Linked DNA regions of Homo sapiens: region 1 is linked to region 2. Evidence: fine-mapped expression QTL. Tissue or cell type: monocytes after LPS. Region 2 holds a variant in brackets; the other region holds the start of a gene. All regions are shown on one strand. Distances are between the middles of the regions.

Region 1 (6,652 bases), 24 kb before region 2:
ATTATCCATTTAATCTATTCAAGAATTATCCATTAGCCTTAAGTAAAAAAAATAGTTCCCCATTACTCAAAAATCATATTTGCACATGTAAAACGGGGCAGAATCTTTTCCTGGGGGTGGGCAGTTGTACTGAAGGGACTCCTTATGAAAAATCTGAGTTTGAAATTATAAATTTATAACCTTAAAAGGCCAGAAAACTGCTTAAAAATTAAGAATGCAGCTGAATATCTCACCTGACAGAGATGTCATTTATTCATAAGTTGTGGGATGTGTTTTAACTCTAGTTAGGACAGGCTGGTTCCCCCCTCCCCACTACATTTTTTTAAAATAGTAAAATGATCAACAAACAAATAAAACTCAGTTTTTCTCAACACTTACAAAACAGAACTGTGAATATTCCAAGATTTACAAAGCCATTGTCTGGTTGAATGGTTCAATTCAATCAAATGTTATATGCCCAATTTTCCAAACACTGTATATGTACAGCGCGAATTTTGATTAAACGCCACTGTTTGTAAAAATCTGAAGGAATATTTAAGATTCTACATGAAATTCTAGAATGAAAACGTTTTGGAAATTCAGAGGCAATCAATTGTGAAATATCTATTTTCAGCTGAAGAAATTTTCCATCCTGCAGACTGGCATGGTTGAACTGCTGTGTTGACTAGAAAAAAAATTGGCCATCAGTTTGAATTAATATTTATAAGTTCTCTTTTAAAAATGTTATGATTTCCTTTAAAAATGTAATTATAATCCACTTGAAAGTGGAGGTGTATGCCTACAATATAGCATATTGAGTAATAAGAAGATGTTATACACAGCACATTCAGAAATATCTTTGTCCTCTTAAAAACAATTCCCAGCACAGATTTAGCTTCTCCATGGAATCGGTTTGCAATCACTTCAAAATGTCCACCTCCTTCAATTTCTTTACCACTTAAAGATAATTTCATTGAAAGGCAGCAAAATATCTAACTGAACTAACAATCACCACATCTTCAAACCTCTGGAGTGAAGTAAAACCCCAATGGCAAATTCATTATTTTTAAAAATCATGGACTGACCTATTGTGATTTTAAGGTATAAAGAAACCTCTCCTAAAGCAGGTGGGTGGGCGTAAATCACTAGTTAAAAATAAATTGCAAAAGAGAAAAAACCCGTCAAGGGGTAAGTTGCTTCTCTACGGTGGGAAGCGTTAGGATGAGGCAAAGCAGGAATGGTCATTTCCCAAGGCTCTACTTTAGTGGTCAATTAGGGCGCTGGGGCTAACGCTAAGTAAACACGTTCGAATTCTTCGGAACCTCTACCTGGGTTTGGGGTCACTGAGCCACCTTAGTCTACTCAATCTTCTCGAACAAGAAAACTTGGGTGGTTGGGGTGGGGAACAATTCGTTATTCTTGCAAGATAAACCAAACCTGGCTGGGATCATCTGCCTACTTCTGAGTTTTCTCCCCAAACCCAGGCCGGGGGCTGGAAGCGGCATACAAAAGGCAGGCGACATGACCTCTCCGGGTCTACTCTCGGGCCAGGCGGAAGGTGGGAAGACCAACTCCGCTACCCCTCCCGTAGAGGGCCCGCTTCCGGGCGGGGGGCAAGGAGCCCCCAAGGCGAAGTCCCCTCAGGAAGTAACCCCAGCTCCGCAGCTAGGACGCAATCGGGAACCAGCCCACTCCTGCTGACTGACGCCAAGGGAGAGTTCGGGACGGGAGCGGCTCCCTCCCAGATCTGTAGCCGGCTGGGGCTCGCGGGGGGCTCCCTTCCCGGGGAACGCGCTCCCTTCTCATCTCCCAGACCTCGGCCGGGGGGAGAGGGAGGCAGGAGTTCTGCGGGGGCCTCACCAGGCGGAGCTGGCTAATTTCGTCGTAGGACATAAAGCTGAGGATGTTCTCGATGGCTACGATGGGCAGCGCCACAAGCGTGTTGTTTTGAGGCAGCTGGTCCGGAGCCAGCGCGGGGGCTGGGAGCGCCTGGGACCCCGGCTGCGGGTGCTGTGGCGCGGGCGGTGGAGGCTGTCGCTGGGTAGAGCCGGAGGCCAAAGAGGAACCGCCGTCGCCTTGGCCGCCGCCTCCTTCCTCTGCCATCCGCTCCTCCGCCGCTGCCGCCATCTTGGGGGCTTGATTCCTTACCCCCACAGCAAGGGGAACAGGGACACTTCCGGTGCGTCACTTCCTCCTCCTGCAGCCGCCGGGGAAGGGGTACCTGGAGGAGTGGGGAGGAGCCTGTGGGATAACAGGCGGAGAGAGACTCACAGGGTGCCTTTCAAGTGGAAGTCAGGGAAGATCATGTAAACCTCAAGAAAGGTGGTCATCCTAGACCCTTTTGTCTAAGATTAGTAACTACTTGAGAGCAAGGAAACCCTATTTATTAAAATGAACTTCACTGTGCAGTTTTCTTAAAGGGCTTCCTGACAATGGATGATAAAGATGTTGCCTAGTAAGTGTAGATGGAAATAATGTAGTTAGACTAGCACCATTTTTTAGGAATCATAGAAATGATTGATTTAGGCAAATAAAAAGGTATGAAATATCAATAAGAACTACAACATGAATGAACCGTGAGAACATATTAAGTGAAATAAGTTAGACACAAAGGACCACATATTGTATGATTGCATTTATATAGGATGTCTTAAATAGGCAAATCCATAGAGATAAAAAGTAGATTAGTGGTCGCCAGAGGCTGGGGGAAATGGGGAAATGAGTGCTAATGGGTGAAGGGTTTCATTTTCGGGGTGATAAAAATGCTCTGGAATTAGCGGTGATGGTTACACAACCGTATGAATATACAAAAACCACTGAATTACTATATACTTTAATGAATTTTATCATATATGAATTGTATTCTAATAACTGATTTAGGCAAGAATCATCAAAAGGTACTAAAACTAGGAGGTAAACGTGATGAGGAACATGATATTTCCATAGTCTCAAAATAACTCCCCATAAATTATGTATTATTTACAAAGATGAAAAGAAATAGTTTACAAGGCTGGGCGTGTTGACTCACGCCTGTAATCCAGCACTTTGGAAGGCTGAAGCGGGAGAATCACTTTAGCCCAGAAGTTGGAGACCAGCCTGGGCAACGTGGAGAAACCCCATCTCTACAAAAAATACAAAAAATTAGCCAAATGTGGTGGCTAGGTCCTATGGTCCTAGCTACTCGTGAGGCTGAGATGGGAGGATTGCTTGAGCCACACGAGTTCGAGGCTGCAGCGAACCGTCAGCCTGCCACTGCACTCCAGCCTGGGCAACAGAGCGAGAAAAAAAAAAAAAGTTTACAATAGAGAAATTTGGTGGACACCATCATAACCAAATGATCAAGACTAACGCCACAGTTATAGGAGGAGCCAATATCATATGCCTATTAATATAATACCCTGAAAAGGACGCAGCATAATGTAGTATTCATGCAAAAAAAGCACGAGTTGCGTTTGAGGTAGACATCGCTAGATGACGGGCCCATAAATTATTCAAAAGTGTTAACGTTACAAAAGACAAAGACTAAGGGTTTGTGGCAGATTAAAGGATACTAAAGAGACAGGGCAACTAAATCTATGGGTGATCCTGGATGGGATCCTGGATTAAGGAAGAAATAACTATGAAGAACGTTATTGTGACAACTGGCAAAATTTAAAAATGGACAGTATATTAGATTATACTGTAATCATATTAAATTTTTCGATTTGGGTAATTGTATTATGGTCATATAAGACAATGTCTTTGTCTTTAGGAAATACACATTGAAGGATAAGCATGCTTCTATTATTTTCCTTTATTTATTTATTTATTTTTTTGAGATGGAGTCTTGCTCTGTCACCCAGGCTAGAGTGCAGTGGTGCGATGTCAGCTGGTTCGAGCAATTCTCCTGCCTCAGCCTCCTGAGTAGCTGGGATTACAGGCGCCCACCATCACGTCTGGCTAATTTTTGTATTTTTAGTAGAGACGGGATTTCACCATCTTGGCCAGGCTGCTCTCGAACTCCTGACCTTGTGATCCACCCACCTCAGCCTCCCAAAGTGCTGGGATTACAGGCAGCAATGGCGCCCGGCCGCATGCTTTGTATTTTACACTTTGCTTTCTTGTGCTTCTCAGATATTGCGTTTTTAAAAATGAATTGAAGGTTTGTGGCAACCCTTGAGCAAGTCTCTTGGTGCCATTTTTCCAACAGCATGTGTTCACCTTGTTTCTTTCTGTCACATTTTGATAATTCCTCTGATATTTAAAACTTTTTATTATTGTTATATCTGTTATGGTGAGCTGTGATCAGTAATTTTTTTTGTTTATTGAGGCAGCATCTTGCTCTGTTGCCCAGACTGGAGTGCAATGACAGGATGATGGCTCACTGTAGCCTCCACCGCCTGGGTTCAAGCAATCCCCCAACCTTGGCCTCCTGAGTAGCTGGGACTACAGGTGTGTGCCACCACACCTGGATAATTTTTGATTTTTTTTTGTAGAAACAGGGTTTTGCCACGTTGCCCAGGCTGGCCTTGAACTCTTGTGCTCAAGCAGTCTGCCTGCTTTGGCCTCCCAAAGTGTTGAGATTACGAGAGTGAGCCACCATGCCTGGCAGATCAGTAATCTTTATGTTACTATTGTAATTGTTTTGAGGTGCCACCAATCATACCCATATAAGACGGCAAATTTAATCAATACATGTAGGTGTTCTGACTGGCTGCTGTTTCCCCATCTCTCTTCTTCTCCTGCAGCTATGGTGGAAATAGCAAGAGAACTGGAATTAGAAGTGAAGCCTGAAGATGTGACTAAATTGTTGCTGCAATCTCATGATAAAACTTGAATGGAGGCCGGGTGCGGTGGCTCACGCCTGTAATCCCAGCACTTTGGGAGCCCCAGGTGGGTGGATCACCTGAGGTCAGGAGTTCGAGACCGGCCTGGCCAATGTGGCAAAACCCCTTCTCTACTAAAAGTACAAAAATTAGCCAGACGTGGTGGCATGCGCCTATAATCCCAGCTACTCGGGAGGCTGAGGCAGGAGAATTGCTGGAACCTGGGAGGCAGAGGTTGCAGTGAGCTGAGATCGTGCCACTGCACTCCAGCCTAGGCAACAGAGCGAGATTCCAGCTCAAAAAAGAAAAGAAAAAAAGCCAAACTTGAATGGATTGAATGGATGAGGAGTTGCTTCTTATGAATGAGCAAAGCAAGTGATTTCTTCATATGGAATCTGTTCCTGGTGAAGATGCTGTGATCATTATTAAAAGACAACAAAGGATTTAGAATATTACATAAACTTAGTTGATAAAGCAATGGCAGAGTTTGAGAAGATTGACTCCAATTTTGAAAAAAGGTCTACTGTGGCAAGATGTTATCAAACAGCATCATATGCCATGGAAAAAATCTTTGTGAAAGAGTCAATCAGTGTATCAAACTTCATTGCTATCTTATTTTAGAAAATTGCCACAGCCACCCTAACCTTCAGTAACTACCATCCTGATCGATCAGCAGCTGTTAAATTGAGGTAAGACCCTCTACCAGCAAAAAGATTATGATTCACCAAAGGCTCAGATGATTAGCATTTTTTAGCAATAAAATATTTTAAAATTAAAGTATATCATTTTTTAGACATAATGCTATTGCACACTTAATAGACTACAGTTTTATATAAACATAACTTTTATATGCACTGGGAACCAAAACTTACTTGTGTCACTGGGTTTATTGCACTACTTGCTTTATTATGGTGGCCTGTGTGGTCTAACTCTCAATATCTCAGAGGTATTTCTGTATTTATGGGTAGAGGGAAATGATGCCTCAAATTACTTTCAAATGGTTCAAGTAAATAGATAGAGAATGAGGTTAATATAGCAAATACAGCAAATGTTATTAATTGATGAATTTGGTTGAAGGGTATACCAGAGTCTTCCTTGTACTATCTTGTAATTATTTCAGAAAAAAAATTTAAAGGTTGCCTAAACTTTCTGTATGTTTGTATACTTATAATATCCTATGACAAAGATAAAGGTATACAAGTCACTATTTTTTTTTAGACAGGGTCTCACTGTGTTGCCCAGGCTGTAGTGCAGTGGCATGATCATGGCTTACTGCAGCCTTGACCTCCTGGGCTCAAGGAATGTTCCTACCTCAGCCTACCAAGTAGGGACTACAGGTGTGCGCCACCATGCCTGGCTACTTTTTAAATTTTTTGTAGAGATGAGGTCTTACTATATTGTCCAGGCTGGTCTTGAACTCCTGTGCTCAAGCAATCTTCTCACTTCAGCTTCCCAAAGTGCTGGGATACAGACATGAGCCACCATGCCTGCCAAATCATTAAATTTTGAAGCTTTCTTCTCCCTAGTGCTTTGGTCTTATTCTTAAAGCTTCCAATATGTCCTTTCTTTTGTAGCTTTCTTTTGGAATCTAATGTTTGCACAGTAGATGTGAAAACTGCAGAAAAAACTAAGTATGACTAAAGGTTAAGGGAAGTGGGGGCAACTGAAGCAAAGAAATTAATTGGTGGTGTTGAGCTTGTTAGAATTGGCATCCTTTCCCCATTCACTTGGCATGTGAACAATTATCATTTTACCTATGATTGTTGCAAAAGTTTTGAAGTTGTTCCTTTGATTCTCCTACTTTGGGTTGTTTAGCATTCAACATATGCTTTATGATTGACTCTTTCTGACATGTTTGCATATTTATA
Region 2 (7,259 bases):
AGCCAGGGGGTTGGAGGATAATGAGAGGGAGGTAATAGGCAAGAGATAGATTACATAGGGTCTTCTAGGTCATAGGAAGATGATTACATTTTATTCTAAGGGCTCAAGGCAGCTGAACATTCAGACCAGAACAGTTGGTCTGTTGTATAATACAGAATTTTTCTGGTCTTTGGTCCTGGTTCCTGAGAGATAACCTTTAAATCCTTGGAATTTCCTGAGTTATACCAGTGTCTTTGTTCCTCTTGGTGGGCCCCTCAACCACACCTGAATTTACGCTAATGAGATGACTCATGATGGACCCCTGTATAGTTTTAGTATAGGGATTGGCCATGCTGGAATGAACGACTACGTGATTAGAGGGTTGGAACTTTCAGCTCAACTTTCAGGGAGCAAGGAGTTTGGAGGTTGAGTTTAATCACAGCACATGACCTACATCAATCATGCCTACATAATGAAATGCCAGTAAAAACTCTGGACACTGAAGTTTGTGGTCTTTTCATCAGGAAATAATATATTCTGACTTGAAAATGTCACCAGCGGCTGGGCATGGAGGCTCACACCTGTAATTCCAGCACTTTAGGAGGCCAAGGTAGGTGGATCACCTGAGGTCAGGAATTTGAGACCAGCCTGGCCAACATAGTGAAACCCTGTCTCTACTAAAAATACAAAAATTAGCCGAGTGTGGTGGCATACATGTGTAATCCCAGCTACTGGGGAAGCTGAGACAGGAGAATTGCTTGAACCTGGGAGGCGAGGGTTGCAGTGAGCCAAGATTGCGCCACTATATTCCAGCCTGGGTGACAGAGGGACACTCCGTCTCAAAAAAAAAAAAAAAAAAAAAAACAACCCACAAAAAAACAACAACCACTAAAAGAAAATGTCACCAGCTTCTGTGTGGATATTGAATTGGAAGAGGATATCGGTAGAATAGTCAGGAATCTATTTTAATAATCCAGGGCAGAGACAATGTTGGCTTGCACTAGGATGGTGGCAGTAGAGATATAAGGAAATAGTTGGATTAGGATATATTTTGGAGATAGATCTATTAATAAAAGCATCTTTGATGGATTGAATGTGGTAGATGAGGTAAGGAGAGGAATCAAGGATGATTTCCAGTCTTTTGAGCACGAAGGTGAAGGATGAGTCCTTTAAATGGGAAAAAGAGACTAAAGGAGGCACAGGTTTCAGCACAATGAGAATAATCAAAAGTTACATTTTATTTTTATTTTTTATTTTTTTGAGACAGAGTCTCACTCTGTTACCCAGGGTGGGTGCAGTGGCAGTATCTCAGCTCACTGCAACCTCCGCCACCCGGGTTCAAGTGATTCTCTTTCTCTTGCCTCAGCCTCCTGAGTAGCTGGGACTACAGGTGTCCACCACCACGCCTGGGGAATTTTTGTATTTTTAGTAGAGACAGGGTTTCACCATATTGGTCAGGCTGGTCTCTAACTCCTGACCTCAGGTGATCTGCCCTCCTTGATCTCCCAAAGTGCTGGGATTACAGGTGTGAGCCAGCACGCCCAGCCAAGAGTTACATTTTAGTCAGGCCAATTTTAAAATATTCATGGTCAGGACTTGAAAGGAAAGAAAAATGGACTCATTAATTCATTTAGCAAAAATGTGTTGATCATCTTTAATATGCCAGGTATTGCTCTAGGCTCTTGGGATACAGCAGCAAACAAAACATACAAAATACATTCTAGTTAGGGGAGAGAAAAAACACATACAATCTGTAAGACAAGTTAAATGAAGAAAGATAAAGCAGGACTGAGGGATAGAGAGAGAGAAGGAATGCTATTATATGGGCCAGTCAGTGATGGCTTCTCTGATGAGGCCTCGGGATATCTGGGAGGATGTCAATGTTATTGAAGGCAAAGGCACAAGTCAAAGGTCCTGAGGCGGAAGTGTGCTTGGTGTGTTTGAAAAACAGCATAGAGGGCAGTGAGCCTAGTGAGCATAGAGAATTGTAATGAGAAGCGTAGAGGTGTGTGCGTTGAGGGTGGGAGAGAATATGTGAATGTGAGGGAGAGGGTTGGGGACAGATCACGTAGGTTCTTTTGCAGGCCATGTAAGCACTCTGGAATTTGTACTGAATTAGAAAGGAAACTATGGGGGGTGTTGAGCACAGGAGTCATGTGAGCAAAAATATTACAAATGGACCACTCTGGTCATGGCAGGGAGAATAGTGGAGAAGCCAGGAGGCTATGAAAGCGGGAGACCAGTTCAGAGTTTCCTGCATCAGTGAGAGGACAGTGGCTTGCACCAGGATGGAAGAGGGAAAAGTACTAAGAAGAGATCAGAGTCTGGGTGTCCTTCAAATGTAAATGAAAATAAAGAAAATGTAGATTAAATAGACAGAGCAGTCAAAGATGACTCCAAGATCTAAATAAATGAAAGAATGGAGTTGACATTTCCTGAGATGGGGAAGACTTGAGGAGCAGGTTTAGGGCAAGGGTTCTCTTTTGAACATGTTGTGGTTCCTTTTAAAATCAACTTAACAGATGGGCGTGGTGTCGTGTGCCTGTAGTCCCAGCTACTCAGGAGGGTGAGGCTGGAGGATTGATTGAGCCCAGGTGTTCAAGTTCACCTTGGGCAACATAGTCTTAAAAAAACCTTAATAATGGTACAATTTGCATATAATAAAGTGTACACACTTATTGGTACAGTTTGATGAATAATAAATATATATCCTCATACAACCACCGCCATACTCAAGATATAGGACATTTTCATTACCCCGAAAGGTTTCCTTTTGCCCCTTTCCAATCAGTTTCCATTTCCCACAGCCCCTGCCCCAAGCAACCACTGATATTCACTCCATCACCATAGATTAGATTTATTTGTGCTAGAGTTTTGTTAAATGGAATTATAGGCTTGGGGGAAAGGAAGATGAGTTAGACACAGCCCACTGGCTGGTACAATGTTTCCCAACTTTTTTTTTTTTTTTTTTTTGAGATGGAGTCTCTGTCACCCAGGCTGGAGTGCGGTGGCATGATCTTGGCTCACTGCAACTTCTGCCTTCCAGGTTTAAGCGATTCTCCTGCCTCAGCCTACTGAGTAGCTGGGATTACAGGCGCCCGCCACTATGCCTGGCTAATTTTTGTATTTTTAGTAGAGACGGGCTATCACCATGTTGGTCAGGCTGGTCTTGAACTCCTGACCTCGTGATCTTCCTGCCTTGGCCTCCCAAAGTGCTGGGATTACAGGTGTGAGCCACCATGCCCGGCCAATTTTCTAAACTTTTAAGTCCATGTCTTCTTTTATACCTTCTTCATTATCCTTTTTTTTGAGACAGGGTTGCACTCTGTCACCTGTGGTGTCAGAGGCTGGAGTGCAGTGTTGTGATCATAGCTCACTGCAGCCTCAAACTCATGGGCTCAAGCAAACCTCCTGCCTCAGCCTCTGGAGTAGGTGGGACTACAGGTGCACACCACCAAGCCCAGCTAACTTAAAATTTGTTTTTGTGGAAATGAGGTCTTGTGATATTGCTCAAGCTGATCTTGAACTCCTGGGCTCGACTGATCCTCCTGCCTTGGCCTCTCAAAGTGTTTGTGAGCCACTGTGCATGGCCCCTGTTATCTTTCATAATCATAGATATCTCAGGTCCTGTCCTGAGGTGCTGAGTGTATCCACAGAGAGGCACACCCTCATTTCCCCTGCTTTCTTATGACTCTGAGAATCATTGTTTCTTTGTATTCTCAGCAGCCAAGATTGTTTTTTGCAAATGTTACTTGTAGAAATTTTTACAGGGCTAGGTATGGTGGCTCACACCTTTCCCAGCATTTTGGGAGGCCAAGATGGGCAGATTACTTGAACTCAGGAATTTGAGACCAGCCTGACCAACCTGGCAAAACCCTGTCTCTACTGAAAATACAAAAATTAGCCGGGTGTGGTGGTGCACACCTGTAATCTCAGCTACTCGGGAGACTGAGGGAGGAGAATTGCTTGAACCCGGGAGGTGGAGGTTGCAGTGACCCAAGATCGTGCCACTGCACTCCAGCCTGGTCCACAGAGGGAGACTCCCTCCATCTAAAAAAAAAAAAGAAAAAAAAAAAGGAAAAGAGGAAGAAGTTTTTACAATGAAGATATGCATTTTTCCTTTAACCAATATAAATAATAGTATAACATTATAATGTGATTTCAATTTACATAGTCCACTTCTCCAGGTTCTGAGAAGTCCCCTTCATGGTTAGTTCTTTCCTTTGAGACTCACTTGTCTTTTTTTTTTTTGAAACAGTGTCTCACTCCATTTGCCCAGGTGGGAATGCAGTGGCATGATCTCAGCTCACTGTAGCCTTGACCTCCTGGGCTC[A/C]GGTGATTCTCCCACCTCAGCCTCCTGAGTAGCTGGGACTACAGGCACATGCCACTATACCTGGCTAATTTTTTGTGTTTTTAGTAGAGATAGGGTTTCACCATGTTGCCAGGCTGGTCTTCTGAGCTCAAGGAATCTGCCCTCCTCGGCCTCCCAAAGTGCTGGAATTACAGGCATGAACCACCGCGCCCGGCCTTCACTTGTCTATTCTAATAATCACATGAAATTAGACAGCCATAAGCATTGATCTGCTAAAGGACATTCTGGGAAGTTGTGCTGTGTTTTGCCTTATCCTGCCCCACTTTAAATGCTTGGTCTTTTATGCATGCCATTTAAAGATCACAGACCAAAGCAATTACTCATGTCTCTGTTTTATAACCTTTGGCTTCCTGAATTATTTTTAATAGTTCTTCCATAATCATACAATAGGTGCATTTATAAGGCCATTTGAATCTAGGAAATAATGAGCATTCAAATAGGCGAGCCAGAGACTTCAAATAGCTACGTGTGGCAGGACATTTTCCTGCTGGGCTGTGGAGGGTGGTTTCAGAGGATTTAGATTTCACAGCAAAGAATAAGTATCATATTGCAACTTCAAAATAAGAAGCTGTAAGTGTTTGAATCTAGTGTGTCTGAATAGCATATTTACAATTTGACTAGGGCCAGATGCAATTATGCCTGTAATCCAGCACTTTGGGAGGTCAGGGAGGGAGGATCACTTGAAGCCAAGGAGTTGAGGCAGACTGGGCAACACAGTGAGAACCATACCTCTACAAAAAATAAAAACATTAGCCAGCTGTGGTGGCACACACCTGTAGTCTCATCTACTTGAGAGGATAATGCGGGAGGATCACTTGAGGCTGGGAGTTCAAGGCTGTAGTGAGCTATGATGACACCATTGCACTCCAGTCTGTGCAATAGAGTGAGACCCTGTCTGTTTTCTTTTTTTTTGAGGTGTGTTATATATAAAGTTTCGGTGCCACAAAAGGAATAACACTCGAGTATAAAATTTTCTTTTTAATTCTCAGCAAGGCAAGGTACTTCTATATAGAAGGGTGCACCCTTATAGATGGAACAATGGTGAGCACACACTTGGACAAGGGAGGGGAAGGGGTTCTTATCCCTGACACATGTGGCCCCTGCTGCTGTGTCGTTCCCCTATTGGCTAGGGTTAGACCACACAGGCTAAACTAATTCCGATTGGCTAATTTAAAGAGAATGACGGGGTGAGTGCTTTGGCAGGAGTCAGGGCAGAGCAGGTAGCAGGTAATTGGAATGAGTTAGGGTGGAGCAGGTGATTGGAATGAGTCAGGGTGGAGTAGGTAATCGGAAGGAGTCAGGGTGGAGGGTAATCGAAAAAGGTTGCTTTACGAGGAAGTTAAGTTTAAAAGTAGAAGGCAAAGAATTGAACATACTGACATATTAATTATTTGAAAAGAAATTTAGAACTCATATCTAACAAGGTGGAGTCTCGCTCTGTCGCCCAGGCTGGAGTGCAGTGGCATGATCTCTGCTCGCTGCAACCTCTGCCTCCCAGGTTCAAGCAATTCTTCTGTCTCAGCCTCCCGAGTGGCTGAGACTACAGGCATGCGGCACCACACCTGGCTAAGTTTGTATTTTTAGTAGAGACAGCGTTTCTCCATGTTGGTCAGGCTAGTCTCGAACTCCCAACCTCAGGTGATCCGCCCAGACCTTCCAAAGTGCTGGGATTACAGGCGTGAGCTTTGGAAGGTCGAGGCGGGTGGATCACTGAGGTCGGGAGTTCGAGACCAGCCTGATCAACATGAAGAAACACTGTCTCTACTAAAAATACCGACTTAACCAGGTGTGGTGAGGCTTGCCTGTAATCCCAGCCACTCGGGAGGCTGAGGCAGGAGAATCGCTTGAACCCGGGAGGCAGAGGTTGCGGTGAGCCAAGATCTCACCACTGCACTCCAGCCTGGGCAACAAGAGTGAAACTCCGTCTCAAAAAAAAATTAAAAAAAAATAATAAATTTGACTGGGGGAATAACAGAATGCAGAACATATATATATATATAGAGAGATGAGGGTTAGTTTGTCAGCATGAAGGAAGCAGTTTCTTTATTGAGGGAACCACACCCTCCTTTTATTCCCCCTCCTTTTCTGCTTCGTTGTAGCCATTTTAGTGGCTATGGTGATTTTATACCTGGTCTTCATTTTCAGCCCCAAATTTTACAGATTTTCCACTAATGTTCAAACCACAAAAGAGCAGGTATCAGAGAGTAGGAGGAATAAAAAAATTGAGAAATAAAATTTAAAAAGAAAAAAAGATAAGTTAGGCATTTCATCAATATTTCTAATGATTCTAAAATCTGTGCATGTGTTGGACCATCAGCAGGAAGCTGGATAGCATTGTTTCAGCATCCTATAGATATTTTTGAGGTGGTTGATGACTGTATTACACAGTGTCTCCTTTGTGGGAGCCTACAGGAAAAATTTTCTTCTGGTTTCAACTAGGGATAATATATTTTTTTTCCTGTGCAACTACTTTCTTTAATCTTTTGAGAGCACTGTGGACCATGTAATTGATCATATATATTTTTTCTTTGCCTGGAATCTTGAACATTCAGAGTTAACTTTGTAATTTCTATCTCTCCGGTGAATAAACCCTCATAGCTTTCATTTTGCTCTGAGCTTCATTCTATTTTTTTAATTTTTATATTCTCCTTGTTCCAATTTACTCCATTGATTTTATTTTAATTATGACGTACTGTAGAATTATTGAGATACTTTATATCCTCTTTTGTAACAATGACATATGAATAGTAGTTAAACCTTAGGGGAAGCAACTCTTTGAAAGTGGAACTTTGGGAAATTAATGTGAGGCTTTGCAGTGTGAGGTTTTTTGTTTTTTGGTTTTTCTTTTGTAGAGATGGGATATCACTCTGAGGCTGGAGTGCAGTGTCGCAATCTCTGTTTACTGCAG

Which allele goes with the higher level. Positions count from the first base shown, and alleles are read on the strand shown. Sizes are in standard deviations (SD) of each study's normalised expression.
For the expression in monocytes after LPS of the gene that starts at base 2,125 in region 1, A is the high allele of the variant in region 2 and C is the other (large effect, 1.1 SD a copy in Quach 2016).

What was found. PIP is the estimated chance that this variant, and not a neighbour inherited with it, causes the effect.
Region 1: FBXO28 starts here. The variant in region 2 is fine-mapped to the expression of FBXO28 in monocytes after LPS (Quach 2016, PIP 0.95).

Annotation. Positions count from the first base shown.
Region 1 is chr1:224,109,584-224,116,235 of GRCh38, reverse strand. FBXO28 (F-box protein 28) reads right to left here and starts at 2,125. Exons shown (of 5, transcript NM_015176.4): 1 at 1,840-2,125. The coding sequence starts at 2,106. It overlaps LOC105373056 (a long non-coding RNA gene), which reads left to right and starts at 2,196. Exons shown (of 3, transcript XR_007066897.1): 1 at 2,196-2,301; 2 at 4,707-5,473. RefSeq lists enhancers at 2,063-2,132, 2,273-2,332, 2,353-2,482.
Region 2 is chr1:224,085,044-224,092,302 of GRCh38, reverse strand. No RefSeq gene overlaps it. Among named protein-coding and RNA genes, the nearest start is that of FBXO28, 25 kb to the left of the region's middle. The variant A/C (reference allele first, on the strand shown) is at 4,313.